2 separate regions of the Homo sapiens genome follow, and region 1 is linked to region 2. Evidence: fine-mapped expression QTL. Tissue or cell type: whole blood. Region 2 holds a variant in brackets; the other region holds the start of a gene. All regions are shown on one strand. Distances are from middle to middle.

The links. PIP is the estimated chance that this variant, and not a neighbour inherited with it, causes the effect.
Region 1: PLCL1 starts here. The variant in region 2 is fine-mapped to the expression of PLCL1 in whole blood (TOPMed, PIP above 0.99).

What each region holds. Positions count from the first base shown.
Region 1 is chr2:197,801,149-197,809,012 of GRCh38, reverse strand. It overlaps PLCL1 (phospholipase C like 1 (inactive)), which reads right to left and starts at 4,420. Exons shown (of 6, transcript NM_006226.4): 1 at 3,674-4,420. The coding sequence starts at 3,913. LOC105373828 (a long non-coding RNA gene) reads left to right here and starts at 4,467. Exons shown (of 4, transcript XR_001739850.3): 1 at 4,467-5,304; 2 at 7,194-7,275. RefSeq lists a silencer at 4,244-4,373.
Region 2 is chr2:198,103,499-198,111,362 of GRCh38, reverse strand. It overlaps PLCL1 (phospholipase C like 1 (inactive)), which reads right to left. Exons shown (of 6, transcript NM_006226.4): 5 at 7,427-7,536. Among named protein-coding and RNA genes, the nearest start is that of LINC01923, 270 kb to the left of the region's middle. The variant G/A (reference allele first, on the strand shown) is at 4,464.

The sequences.
Region 1 (7,864 bases), 300 kb after region 2:
TAATGAGACATGAACAACACCCAAGTAGCTGCTCCAGTGCTGGTCTCAACACCTCATTCCCAACTCCCATCTTCATCCCCCACACCCATGTCCATGAGATCCAAGTGACAATTTCTATTCTTCCTTGCCTAGAGAATTTGTTCTTAAGTAGAACAAAAGGAAGTTGAAAAAAAGTAGAACCCGTCAATGTGTCACATACAATGGAAGAAAAATCAACTGCTATTTTTAAAATACACATGTAGCTCAGTTTCCACCAACTAATATAGTAAATAAGCTATGCTGCTTCCTATTTCCAAAACATTACAATTATTACTGCACTACAGCTATTTGGAACAGCATTTAATGTTTTGATTAATATAAAATGTACTAAAGCTTTTCTTCTTTGTGTACATTTCAATGCCAAATTTAAAAAAACTCTTGGCAAAACTGTGAAAAATGCATTTTCTCTCAATATAAAACATTTGCTATGTATTTCTTATATGATCTAGACTTTTTTTGGAAACTCATTTTTACTATGCTAAAGGGAACAAACCACAGGGCAGCAGATTATAGGGCTATAAGCAATAATCTAAAATGTTAAATATTTTAAATGCTATAAGTTTGATATCAAATACCAGATAAATAAATGGTCTTATTTCTTAATTAGAAATATATTCAAATGCAGAATAGTAAACAACTTTTAGAGATTATCAATACTGCAGGTATCCAACTTGTCATTTCAAACCACAAGTCATCAAGAAGAAATTAAAATGGATTCTATTGCATTATTGTGGTATATAACAATGCGCTTACCAAAAAACATGCAGCATTTATCAATGTCAATGCTGTTGAAACAATCACACAGAAAAATATAGGAAAAAGTAGACAGATTTTAAAAAAACTTAGTTTAATTCTCACATTGAACGTTTTTAAACCTAGGATTGGTTATATGTGGGGAAGAAACACAATGTCAGTAGAAAGAATTTCTGAAGATGCATACAGATAAATGTTGTCATTGTTTTCCTCAGCTCAGAAGAAAATTGTTTTTTCAACTAAACACATGTTTTCACAAATTATGGAGGGCAAATTTACTAAAAACATTCTTTTTATTAATATACAAGACAGTCTGTTTTCTGTCAGGATAGCACTATTCTGAAACAATACCTTAAATTGAGCTGACAAGAATTTAATATTTGATGATTCACAACCTTTCAGTGGCTCAGCATTATGAATATCAATTATTACTGCACTACAGCTATTTGGAACAGCATTTAATATTTTGATTAAAATGTACTAAAGCTTTTCTTCTTTGTGTACATTTCAATGCCAAATTTAAAAAAAAATCTCTTGGCAAAACTGTGAAAAATGCATTTTCTCTCAATATAGAACATGTGCTATGTATTTCTTATATGATCTAAACTTTTTTTGGAAACTCATTTTTACTATGCTAAAGGGAACAAACCACAGGGCAGCAGATTCAAGAATGTCACCAGAAAGGTTCTTGATCTCAGAGACGGAGTGGAACAGAGCTTACCACCTGCCTTTTTTTCTCCTTAGAAGGGCGTTAAGGCCTCTGGGAACAGACCCCAATGACTGCTGCCCACCAAAGACCTACCAGATTACCCCCTCTAGGCTTCAAAAATGCTTAAAACTATGAGACTTGTAAAACTCTAGCCAGATTTTTTTGTAGAAATCAGGAGCTGCTATAGTTCATCATAGACACATATAGATATATCTGCTTACACATGCATGGAATATTTTGGAAGCATACATAAGAAAGTGTTAACATCTATGAGGGTGGACTACATAAGTGGGAATGTGGAGTGTCTGAGGGTCTTTCCTTCACACTCCTTTGCAACATTTGATTTTTTAAATTATATGTATGTGCTACTTTTCCAATAAAAACCTAACATAATAATTCACTTTATTTTCTAATATCTTTAATTTTAAAGGCCATTTACCAAATGTTAATTGCATTTACTATTAAATAGGGGAAAAATCAAGTTAATATTCTGTTGTCTCCCTCCTTTTTTGTCACAAAAAGAAACTTCAAAACAAAAGAGGCACCATTACTCAGCAATGACCCTTCTGAGAATATAAACCAGCATAGTACAATTCACAAGTGGCAAACTCAGTTGCAAGAATTTGTATATTCCTTATACTCCATTACTTTTGTTTTTTACAACATTATAGAGCCGTTTGCTCTTTATTGTCATATATTTTAAAGTCTCTTGCAGTGCCTGTTTTACACACACAGGACACCATGTAGTATCAATACAGTAGAATCCAAAATGTATGTGTTTCCTAATTGTGATGTTTTTTAAGTTTGAAAACAGTGTGCTTTCTGACCTGTGGGTTAAAAACAAAATAGTAATTTCCCTTTGTCCAAATTCACACCCAGAATAGAACACTCCTGTTACATAATCAAAAAGCCACAAAATAACAGAAACTACTACAAGCCATTTGTAATTACCACCCACTCTTCTTTATATATTATAGAAACCTCTCCACTGATTTTAAACTTCCATGTGTCAGTGTTGGGAAAAAGACTTTACTGGAGCCACATTCTGTGGTTAGTCTACCTAAGCTGGTGCTGGGAGCTTGCAACATGCGTGATGCACTGGTTACGCAGCTTAACCCTGAACAGAGCTTTTGAATATATTAGTGAACCCAATAAATTCAATAGTAAGTAAAAGTCCATCTTTCATTGTCATTGAGGGATGTGTGTGTGTGTATGTACACACACACATATATACTTACATATATACATACATACATATCGTTTTATACTGACTGCTCCACCAAAATCAATTTTAATCTGACATACATTTGATTGATTACTCACATGCATTTACACTGAGGCCCTTTTCCAGAGCCTGTGCGAGGGTTCTTTCCTAAATAACCTTACCCCAAAGTCATGCTCCCAAAAGAGGAAATCTCGAACAGAAGAAACAAGCCCCAAGTGGAAGGAAGATGGAAAGAGAAAGGGGAGGAAAGAGGTTTACAAATTCCTTGCCAAATGGATGGAGAGAAATTCTGTGAGGTGATTAGCGGGTCAGGAAGCGTTTTCCCTGGATGTGGTGGTAACCACAAGGACCAGTGATAATGCTTGGGGGATTGATTGCTTTCCGGTTGTGCTTTCTGCAGCGCAAAAACTCTGGGCTCTTGCATTGCTCTTTACTGTGATGCAGGGTCCACTTAAAACTCTGCCTCCCTACCGGGAAAGTTCACACATCTTGGGATTTCGGGATCATTTAAGTCTAGAGGGATTCTTTTTTTACACTTGAGAGTAAGCTGTGCATTTTCTTCATTGTATGGGAAAAGCTAACCCTTCATTGGAAAGCAATGCACAACCATCCGGTGGGTCTGCATTTATCCAGAGTTCTCCCTTCCTCCCTCCATCAACGGTTTAGTGAAGCTTGCAGAGAAAATGAGGGAAAGCATCCATCAGAACGCAAAGACGCAGAGCGGAACTTTTCCTCTGCCGTCAGTGGGGAGAAAAAGTCACTTGTGCGTCTCGTGGCTGACAGCTGAGTCTGGGAACCTCCGGATAAGGAAGGAAGGTTTGGCGTTGAAGGAGGTGGGAGAAAACAATGCTGAGCCCGGATGCCTCCGGACACCGCACATCCTGCCCGGGTCCCTGACCCACCCATCACCCACAGCCACGCTCCCGGTGCGGCGCGGCTTTGCTTACCTTGATGATGCTGCTGCGCCGGGGGGTCGCCCGTGCTGCCTCCAGGAGGCCCGCCTCGCTGTCCGCTGGGGTCCCCGCGGCGCCTGGCAGTGCGACCCCGCTGCGACGGTCCCTCATCCGGCCCCCAGAGGCCGCCGTCACGCAGTCCCCGGCGGCATCCGGGCCCACTCGGGGGTCGTCTTCGCCCCCCGCCGCGTCGGGCGGCGCCGGATCCTCCCTGCCGGCCGCGCCCTCGGCCATGGCCTGGAGCGTTTAGGGCTCCCCGGGGGAAAGCGGGACGCCCGGCAGCGGAGTCCAGCCGCTAGGCACCGGTGCGCTCCTGCACCGGGAGGCGGCCCCGCCAGACTTTGTTTCACCGCCCAGCGGCGGCAGTGGCGGCGGCGGCGGCGGCGGCGGCAACTTTCTGGAGAGGGGACATCGCTCGGGCAGAGACGTCCTCGGGCTTCGGTCTAGGAGGCTAGCAGTCCGGCGGGGGACGGTGGCGGGAGTGGGGAGGCGATGTGAGCGGGAGGCAGAAGGAGAGGCGAAAAAGAGAGGGAGGTATCCGAAATGTGATGCAAACGCCGGCCCTGCGCCAGACAAAAGGCACCGGGCGCCCAGCCAGGCGGCCTCTGGAGCCCGGACGCCGGCGGCCCGATAGGGGCCAGAGCCGGGCGACTGCGGCCGGGCGCACCCGCCACCTGCCCGCGGACTGCGGCGCAGCGGTCCCAGGAAGTGCGGCGGCGGCGGCGGCCTCCACTCAGCTCTGTTGTGACAGGGAGGGAGACTTGTTTTGACAGCCCTTGGGGATTGGCAGGCGTCTGGGCCTCTTAGGAGCCTCGCCTCGCCGAGGGGGCTCGGCCCGACCAATCCTCACTGCGGAGGGGTGTGCCCGAGCGCGAAGAATGGAATGTGTTCTGCAACTGGGAGCCGGCCCAGCGGGGCTAATGTACTCGAGCCAGGGTGTACCCGCGCGCGCGCGTGTGCAAACCCGGAGGCGCTCCGTGTATATTTTAGGAAGTTTAGATTTGCGAAATGAGCCTGAGATGCAACAAAAATCCAGGTTGGGTGAAGGAGAGGGGAGAAAGAAACCTTCTTCTGCCAAACAAAGCAATTTGGAGGAAAGTGGGTATTGAGTATGAATGTCTAAGCGTTTGGGGTGACGGGGTGAAGCTTTGCGTGGTCACAGGTTAATTGCAGGCTCTCAGGCCAATTCTTAGAAGTCAAGTCCATGCAGAGATAAACTAGGGTTTACTGGGATCTTGGGGTTCCATAATTTGCTTCAGGTTCCAGGAAAGGATTCTAAGGTCATTCTGCAGTGTGAGTAAATATAACAAGGAAAGGGAGTCAGTGAAAGAGATGAGGGTGAAAGGAAACTGAACCAACTAAATCCCTCCGAAGACTGACTCTTAAAAAGCACAGATATAATCCAAGTCAGATAAATGCAGGTGGGGAGTTTAGTCTCTATCCTAAAACATTCCTATTTGACAATGGTTCAGCCTCCTTTCTCTATATAATCCTATATAAAAACATATTTTGCTCATTTCCAGTAAGCTAGCAACCAAGAAGGGAGAGATCTTTGGATGATGAGTTAAGTCACTGAAATTATCCACAGAATGCTCAGATGCAAACCATGGTCCTAAGGCTCCCTGGTAAGACAAAAGACTTGGCATTTTAATTTTAAACTCCTTTGATATTAGAATCTATATTAAACCTCACTTATAACATTACATTTTATCTTATTAATAATTTAATAATTTGAGATTTTACTTGTTCCTTAGTCTGGCTAACAGCATGAGAAATTATTCAGCATTTTAGACCAACAATTTGGTTTGAATCTCATAATTTTAGAGATATATGGGGATTTAGGGATCAACTAGGACATCATTTTTGTTTTACGGTTGAGACAAAGGCCCAGGGAGTCTTGTCTACTAGTTAGTGCAGGAGCCAAAATTAGAATCAGCCACCCAACTCCTCCGATAATCTCTTCACTACTTTATCTGTCTCCTCTGGGCTACAACCAGCCAGAACTGGCAGGGGCACTTGGGAGGTTTCAGATTTGACATTTATCAACTACTAGGGAATACTGAGAAGGCTTGACTTTGCCTTTTCTTTAAACATAAATGCAGCCTAGTAATGAATGTACTGTAGAGAGTAGCAGTGACCTCTGGTTTTAGAACCAACACCACCCTCTAGTGAGATTCTGAGAACTGCATCCATAACAGCAAAGGCTTCTTTTTCCCCCTCATCTTTAAAAGACAGGAGGGGTAACCCAACAAAAGTTTCCTTTTCAACAGGTATGCCTTTACAACGCACAGACTAGAGGAAGAAAATAAAGTGTACCCAGACTTAAAACAACCATACATGTCTTCCATCTCCTTTAGTTCAGGGAATTCCTGTCTATGCTATATAGGAAATATTTTTAATTGCTATCCTCAGAAATATATCTTATTTTAGGCTATCATTTTTTTCTTTGATATTCAACTATTATTACATTTGACTTCTGTCATTTACAGTTGTCAGTGCTTCATTTTTCTTTGTTACTCTAATAAAAGTCCCATTCTTCGGTTGTCCTCTGAAAAATGTAAAACTGCCTTTATCTCACTCATTATCTTGTTATAGGATATTAATGTCATTTATAAGTTCCTCATCCTACAGATTTGTGTACCATTATGATAATAATTTATTTTTACAAATTTTAAAATTAGCATCACTTTATTAACAAACATTCAAGGTCAGTGATTTAAAAAAAAACAGAGGCCAGAAAGTACAGCATATAACTTGCAAAATGTTGTATCTTTCAACTAGACAATGTCTAGTTGGACTCTTTTCTCTTCCTTGGCATCCTTCCCTCTCACCCTCATGTGAAAGTGCACACACACACACACACACACCCCTCTGATTCCTTTGCTCTGAGCCTCTATCCGTAAAGATTGTTGTCTAAATTACTCTGCTTTGATAAACTAGTTGGACCCTAATCTAGCAAGTCGTTTATATTGTTGTGTTCCAGCATAAGCTCAGAAGGCTTTTCCTGATACTCATGTTTGCAATTGAAAAAAAAAAAACCCCTCCTATGTACTTGCTCCTAGCCAGGAGCAGATTCTGCTTTGTGGACCCACTTCAAAAACTGAAAGAGACTAGCTAGTTTCAGTTAAGTCAGCAGCCATGGGCACATTCCTACCCCTGCATTAACAGTCCCTCTTTCCAAATAGCTGTCACCTACAATTCTTGCCTCCCAACCTTTTACCAAGTCATGGTGACAATTGCTAGATTGGCAGATTGGAATTTGGGGGTGAGCAGGGGTAGGAAGGTAAGATATGAATAATAGTAACGAGCAGGAAATTCAAATGTTACTACGTCAGAAAGGACTCTCTAACTACAAATCTCAAGTTGCCCCTACAAGCCTCAGTACATGTCAGTCATATTGTGTTTTGTCTTCTCACAGGATTTTATCACTGTGAACAAACTGTCTTTTCCGTGGAATTGTTTACTTACATATTCTGTTTTACTTTCCCCCTATCTCTGCTTCACTGAAATGTAGAATGCCATCTCCATGTGCCTAAAGACCTTGCGATTTTATTCATTGCTGTATCTCCAGCTCCCAGAACTATGTCTGGAACAGAGTAAGTGCTCAATAAATATTTATGGACAGAGGACTTTTGCAGTCCTGTGACTAAATAAAATAATCAATCTGATAAAGAAAAATGGTTCTGTCACTGTCTGCATGGTAGAACTTCTCATCCTCAAGGATCCTAGAATTCCATTTTAGAGCAGAAATCAGAACAGATCCACACCAAGCAGCTACAAATCTCAGAAGAAGGGCACTTATTAATTGGAATGACTTGAAATCTAGAATTAGACTGAAATACAACCAATAAGAACTAAGCAAGTTCTAGCAGTCCTGAAAATACCTAGACCAGACTAAAAGACTAGATATGTCAATATAGTCCTTCCAGCCAGGGAAGTCCAGAACCCTGGGCCTGAGAAAAAACCAGTGAGAATATTAAGACTTTCCATATACTACCAGGAAGTCATAGTGGGGGGAAAAGAACTATCTCTTTGATAACTGCTTTCTATGTACCAGATAATCCTCTCTGCAGTATTCTGATCTCCACTTCACAGATAAGAAAACTGGGGATCAAAAGGGTCAAGTAGCTTGCTTGAAGTTAGAGCCAACTAGGAAGTGAAAGAACCAGCATTTGAGGCAATGTT
Region 2 (7,864 bases):
AATGTGAGTGGAAGGGACATGTGACTCTACTGGGCAGAAGCTTTTAAAGACCATTTTTGCATCCCTACCTCTGGGATTGTAGAAGTATTTGCTGGGATGGAGTCCCCATTAGCCTGTGTTCCTGAGTGACCATTACTTACCTGTGATGGACATGTAGTACAAGCAAGAAATAAGCCATTGTGTTATATTGTAGTAGATTTTCAGATTTTTGTTACTATAGCACAACCCAGCATACCCCAACTGATACAAGAGCATAGAGACAAAACAAAATTTTCCCAAAGACACAGAGCTAGGAAGTGTCTGGCTGCAGCGTCTGTACACTTAATCACTTTGCCTGCTGTTTCTCAATAATTGATAGTATAATAATATCAATATTAAGGATGGTTTATTATTAATGCATTATTGTTGTTGTTTGGAGGTCTGTTTCTACACTTTGTAAATATACTTTTTTTTCTGAATACTCAAAAGGAATCCTAGCCTTTCTCTAGATTCTACAGCAACAACAGCTGGCAGATGCCAGAGACACCACTGGAAAAGTTCTCAATAGACAATGTGGATGATACTGGGCATGTTCCTTCTTTATATACCCTCAGGCAGCCCCCAAAGGCATGGTCACTATGTCTGTTGGAAGAGCCTGGTTTGAACATTCACACTAACAGCCCCCTCTCCACAGTATCTCATAGAATGATTTTAAATATCTATGGCCAGTAAGTGAAGGGTAGCCCACTTCTCACTCTCACTCAGCTTTCAGAGATGGATGCCTCTCCTCATACTTCTTTTCCCATTAGCCCATCATCTGTTTCCTTTCTTTTGTCTCTCAACAATGAACAGAGACTTCAAATGTGTTTTCAGGCTCTAATTGAAAGCGTATTTCTACACTGACATCCATGTAATTTCCTCTGTTGTAGCAAGATTCCCCAGAACTGTAAGGTCCTGAAATTCGGGAATTCAGTGAGGGAATCTGCCTGGGTTAGAAACATAACTACACACGGAGAAGTGAGAAGCTTCAATCTCTGCTCTTCCCACGGAAATTGAAAATGTTTTAGATAAAAGCAGAAGGAGCAAAGGCTTAAGTAGTGATAAAAAGCAAAAGCGTTATGGGGAAAAGTAATAGTCACATATACTAAACATAAATTTATAAAAGCAGCCCAGAATCATGGCACACATTGGAATGCATTAAATTATAAGTTGGAAATCTATCCAGGAAAAGTGTAAATACATATTTAATAGGAATGACCATTGAAGAGGTAATAGTTATATTCATTTTTTATTTATTGCCTGTTATTCAACAAGTAATCAATGAAAGTCATGAATAAATAAGAAGGGCAGCTACTTCTTAACCCTTTTATTTCTCTTTAAGCTCTAGTGATTACCTACTTCATAGTTTTTCCTTTGTAATAAAATATTTATTAATTATATTTCTTTAATATTATTTTTATATATCTCTACTTGATACTTCTCCAGCCTGCTAAAATTGATTTTTACATAAAACTTTTAAAAACACAAAGTAATAAAATTTAGTTTCTTAAAATAGCCAACAGGACAAGTTAGAAAAATATATATTGGGAAAGCTCACTAAAATGCTCCCCTTGGGTTCTTTCTAATTTCAGTTTTATAGATGTGATCACCTTTACAATGCAGTTCTTTTTGTACTTAAAAAGTCAAATCACTCTGGATAGAGTTCAAGACTTTAGATGAATTCCACTTCATTGCAAATAGCATTTTATCAGTGATATAGTGTAATTCCACATCTTGCTCCCAAGAGATCTTCAGAACTCTCATGAGTGAAACACTTCCAAAATTACTAACAATGTACTAGAATATGTTGGCTACGTAAGTGAAGTTGTAGTATCCCTTTCTGAAAGCCTTAAAAAACAGGAAAAATTTCCATTTTGAGATTTTAATATTATGTTAACAACCAAATGTCTATAGTTTGAATGTTTGTGTCCCTTCCAAAATTCATGTTGGAACTTAATCCCCAATGCAATAATATCAAGAGGTAAGGCCTTTAGGAGGTGATTAGTGCCCTGTAAAAGGGCTGGAGGGAACTAGCTAGGCCCTTTTACCTTCTTTTGCCTTTCTTTCCCTTCAGCCATTTGAGGAGACACCGTTCCTCCCCTCTGAAAGACGAAGCAAGAAGTCACCATCTTGGAAGAAGAGACTGTGCTCTCACCAGACACTAAATCCACTCCTGCCTTGATCTTGGATTTCTCAGCCCCAAGAACTGTGAGAAATAAATTTCTGTTGTTTATAAATTACCCAGTCTCAGGTATTTTATTATATCAGCACAAGAAGGACATCATGGAGAAGAAACAGAGGGAAAGGTCTTTTAACATGTGAGGGTGGAATGGAATGGAGTTATTTTGATCCAGTGATTGTCTTGAAAAGGTAGTGAGGACTGAATCATCCTATCATCCTAAATAAACACAATGGCTATGTAAGGAGACCAATTTCATGTACAATAGTGAAAAAGAAAGAAAGGAAGAGCAAATTGACTGCTACAGTTGGATATAGACATATGGCAAAAGTATGGAAAAATGCAAAAGATACGCTAAACAAGTCCCTATACTGGACCCACGTAGGTGCTAGAATATGAATTAAAGAAAAACACAAGTGTGGGATCTTCCAGAAGCACCTTGATTTCAGTTTCCTTGCTAAATACTAAGTCCTGGTCTCTGCAACAATTTGGACACTGTAATTATAATTCTTATTCATTATATTGTCGTTAGTCATTTTTCTTTCTGCAATTTTTTTCTCCAGCTTTTAATATCAGATAAATGTAATATTGAACTGCAGAAAACACTAAACAATTTATTTTTCAGTCTCAGCTCAATTTACTCTAAAGCCAATGCCCCTTTGCACCACTCCATGCTGTCAATCCCCCAACTTGCTGAGGGCACATTTCTCATTTTTTTCCAGCTCCTTCCTTACTTATTGGAAATTACACTGGAATTAAATATTTTTAGAAATACAAACCAACACATTTAACCAGAATTGGTTAATTCCCACTCCCTCTCTCTAGATAGTAGGGAATACTAGTCTAAATCATGTATAAGGAAACTTTTTCAGTAGGCAACGCAGAATTGTACCACAGCCTCCTAATTCAGTGATTATGTCTTTCCAGGATGGTTATTAATCATTCAACCAACTGGAAGCAAGGTAAATTGAATCTACTAAACTTATAAACAAAGAGCATTTATTAAAATACTTAGAGGAGCTCTGAAAATCAATAGCAAGTCTGGAGAATTAATTGGGAATCAAGTGTTTCAGATCTAATGCATAAGAACTAAAGGAAGAATCGTATAGAAAAAGATATCTTCTTAGAGCAGCACCACTGGAATAAAAAGTCTCCAACAGAGCCCAGGCTCTTTTTCTCTCAGCTAATAATTCAAATTCAAAGGAGGTCATTTGTCCAGCTCTTGGGGAAAGGACACCAGATTAACAGGCCCCAAACTCAATGGAGGAGAAAAAGGAGCTATTGGAAGTGTGGAAATGTTCTCTACTCTTGTTTAGTAGTAGTCCACTACTCTAGTGCTCAAGCTGAAATACCAGCAGCTAGTATGTGAGTTATAATAATAGAAAATCAATTCTGTCTGAAAAGCTCTCTCTTGGAATAATTTGAACAGCATTTGCTCAATCACATCTAACAATCAGCTTCTGTTACTAAACCAAACAAAAACATTAAGAAATCTCTGACAACACTAAGTGGGCTTAAGTCAGAAGTTAACAAAGAAATAAAAATAACAAAAACCTCATTTCTCCATGTTTATCCTCACCTGGCAAACAAACAAATAACAGCTAACATATATGCTGTCTAGTTTTGTGCACTGTGACTTACATCTTTTGTATGTATTATCTCATTTAATTCTCACAAAATCTGAGATGTAGGTATTATTACTACCCTGAGGGAGATTATATAACTTGGCTAGTCTCACCACTATCAGGTAATCACACAGGGCCTGCATTCTTATTCCTGCACTAGGCTGCCTGGACCCAATGGGACTGATATGGTTTGGACCCAAATGTCATCTTGAATTGTTGTTCCCACAATCCCCACGTGTTGTAGGAGGGACCTGGTGGGAGGTAATCAAATCATAAGGGAGGTTATCCTCATGCTGTTTTCATAATAGTGAGTGAGTTCTCACAAGATCTGATGGTTTTATAAAGGGCTTTTCCACCTTTTGCTCAGCACTTCTCCTTGCTGCTGCCATATGAAAAAGGACATGTTTGCTTCCTCTTGCACCATGACTGTAAGTTTCCTGTGGCCCTCCCAGCCATGCTGAATTGTGAGACAATTAAACCTCTTTCTCTTATAAATTAATTACCCACTCTCGGGTACGTCTTTATTAGCAGCGTGAGAAAAGACTAATACAGGGACTCAGCCACATGGATGGAGTTTTAGAGGAGGCAGAACAGTGTAGTGGATAGAACCATGGGCGTGAGTTAAAAATTGCAGGCTGGCT[G/A]TTTACTAGCTGTGTGACTCCAGGCAAGAAATTTCAACCCCCACAAGCCTCAATTTCCTCATTTGTGAGATGGAGAGAGTCCTATCAGAGTCAGCATGTCATGTTGCAAGATTGCACTGTTGTGGCAAGGAAGAAAGGGGAAATGTACATAAAGTACCTAGCCTTGAGTGCTGATCACAAAATAAGTGCTGAACAATTGATGGCCATTATTAGTTACATGTCTGTCTCTCCTTATAGACTAGTCTTGGAGACCCAGGTAATCCTCCTGATATTTGTATCCCTAGCACCTTTCTGTGACAGGCACATTAACAAGCCCATATAAAATCTTCTGAACATAAAATGTTTATATCAGGGTACACACTGCCACATTATAATCTAGGGTTATAATAAGCACCTCTTTAACACTACAGCTCTAGGTCATCCCTGCTCCTTAAGCAAATGATGCCTTATCCATCCCCCTCCTCCACTGGACTCAGACTGCTAACTTCATGAGGTCAGGGTCTGTATCTCATGTTCTCCACGTATTCCCAGTGCCTAGCACAGAGCCCAATGCATAGTAGGGGCTTATCACTTGTGGACTGAATTTTTAATAGACATTTGTAATATGTCTTACAGCTAACCTAACACTTTCACATAAACATGTGCAGCATCTCTGCAGCACAGGTTAAAGACACAGGGTCTGGAGCCAGACTGCCTGAGCTTAAAATTTAGTTACACCATTTACTAGCTGAGCGCCCTCAGGAAATATACACAGACTTCCAATGCCTCCGTTTTCTCACCTGTAAAATGAGATTAATAACGATACTGAGTTGGTGTGAGTATTAAATTGTTAATTCATATAAACCTCATAAAACAGTACCTAGCACAAAATGAGTGTTCTTTAAATGTCAGCAATTATTAATTTTGTTTGTAGCTATTTTTCTCCCATTTAGCTGTCAAGAATATATTGTCTGCCTAAATCATTTCTTTTTTCATGTAAGAAAATATAAAAAGTGGCATATTTACTTCAAAATTCTAAAATTCATGTGCAGCAGAGAGCAAATCATAATCTCAAGAAAATGACTTCCAAAGTTATTTGCAAAAAGAAATGTATTTATAGGAACTGTTCTTAAAATAAAAATCCTCAATGGCCCTAGATATTTTGTACTTTGTCTCTTCAAAATCATTTGTGTTGGAATCTTCCCCAGAAGCATTTGTCATTATTCTTTCCACAAACAAGAACAGCCATATTGACTTGAACGTAAGTATTCATGTGAGTAAACACACACACACACACACACACACACACACACACACACCAGGCAAATTAATCTCACACATGGGCTGTACCCTGCCTGCACCGAAAACCTCATTGCCTTATTAAGGCAAAAACCATGTTAATTCCAGTATGCAGCTCCCCATCTCCTAGAGTATGAACCTAGAGATCAAGCCACACATTCCTGAAGCCATCACTTGACCCAACTTCAAACGATACTACAAGGCTACAGTAATCAAAACAGCATGGCATTGGTACAAAAACAGACATATAGACCAATGGAACAGAATAGAGAGCTCAGAAATAATGCTGCACACCTACAACCATCTCAGCTTCAATAAAGTCAACAACAACAAGCAATAGAGAAAGGACTCCCTATTCAATAAGTGGTGCTGGAATAACTAGCTAGTCATGTGCAGAAGATTGAAATTGGACCTCTTCCTTGTACCATATACAAAAATCACTCAACATGGATTAAAGACTTAAATGTAAAACCTAAAACTATAAAATCTCTGGAAGTTAACCTAGGAAATACCATTCTGGACATAGGACCTAATAAAGATTTCATGACAAAGACACCAAAAGCAATTACAATAAAAACAAAAATTGACAGTGGGATCTAATTAAAGAACTTCTGCACAGCAAAAGAAACTATCAAGACAGCAAACAGACAACCTACAGAATGGGAGAAGATATTTGCAAACTATGCATCCAACAAAGGTCTAACATTCAGAATTTATAAGGAACTTAACAAGCAAAAAAATAAACACCCCATTAGAAAGCAGGCAAAGGACGTGAACAGACACTTTTCAAAAGAAGACATATACGCGGCCAACAAGCATATAAAAAGGTGTTCAACATCACTAATCCTTAGAGAAATCCAAATCAAAACCACAGTGAGATACCATCTCACAGTCAGAATAGCTAAAAGTCAGAAAATAACACATGCTGGCAAGGTTGTGGAGAAAAGCGAATGTTTATACAATGCTGGTGGGAATGTAAATTCATTCAGCCATGTGGAAAGCAGTGTGACAATTTCTCAAAGAACTTAAAACAGAATTACCATTTGACCCCAGCAATCCCATTAGTGGGTATATACACAAAGGAATATAATTCCTTCTACCATAAAGACACATGGACATGTCTGTTTGTCACAGCACTATTCACAATAGCAAAGCATGGAATCAACCTACATGTCCGTCAATAGTGGACTGGATAAAGATAATGTGGTACATATACACCACAGAATACTACACAGCCATAAAAAAGAATAAGATCATGTCCTTTGCAGCAACATGGATGGAGCTGGAGGGCTTTATCCTAAGCAAACTAATGCAGAAACAGAAAACCAAATACTATATATTCTCACTTATAAGTGGGAACTAAACAATGAGACCACATGGACACAAAGAGAGGAACAGCAGACACCAGGGACTACATGAGGATGGAGGGTGGGAGGAGAGAGAGGGTCAAAAAACTACCTATTGCATACTAGGTGCTTATTACTTGGGTGACAAAATAATCTGCACTCCAGCCCCCCGCGACACACAGTTTACCTATATAACAAACCTGCACATGTAACCCTGAATCTAAAGTGAAGGTTTAAAAATCCAAACCATCATATTTAATCCTTTACATTTCTCTACACATTGGAGAGATGAGGAGAAGAAAAGTAAAGGCACAGGGGACATCTGAGTGTTTCATCTACCTTCAATACTGTAATGTTCCAAGCAAAGCTCTCAGTTGCTTTGTTGAGTTTTCTTCCCTTCAAGCCTTCTTTTGCCCCCAAATTATGAAGTTCTTCATGGAACTCCATCCCTTTGAAGAAAGAATGCATAAGAAATCTGAGTATATATCTCAGAAAAATGGGCATCTTATAATGAAAATATTATCAGTAAAATATAATTTCACATTCCTGTCTTCTCATAATTTCCAAATCCCTAAATTGAATTATCCTTTTCATTCTGTTCATCCCACCAAGTAGCTGTCCTTATGCACAAATTGACAACAGTCAATGCATTAGGCTAAATTGTATTTAAAACAGCCAGGAGCCATAGAAAATGACATGAGAAGGAAAAAAGTAAATTCTATGGGTACAAAAAAATAGGAAGAATGAATAAGACCTAGTAATTGATAACACAACAAG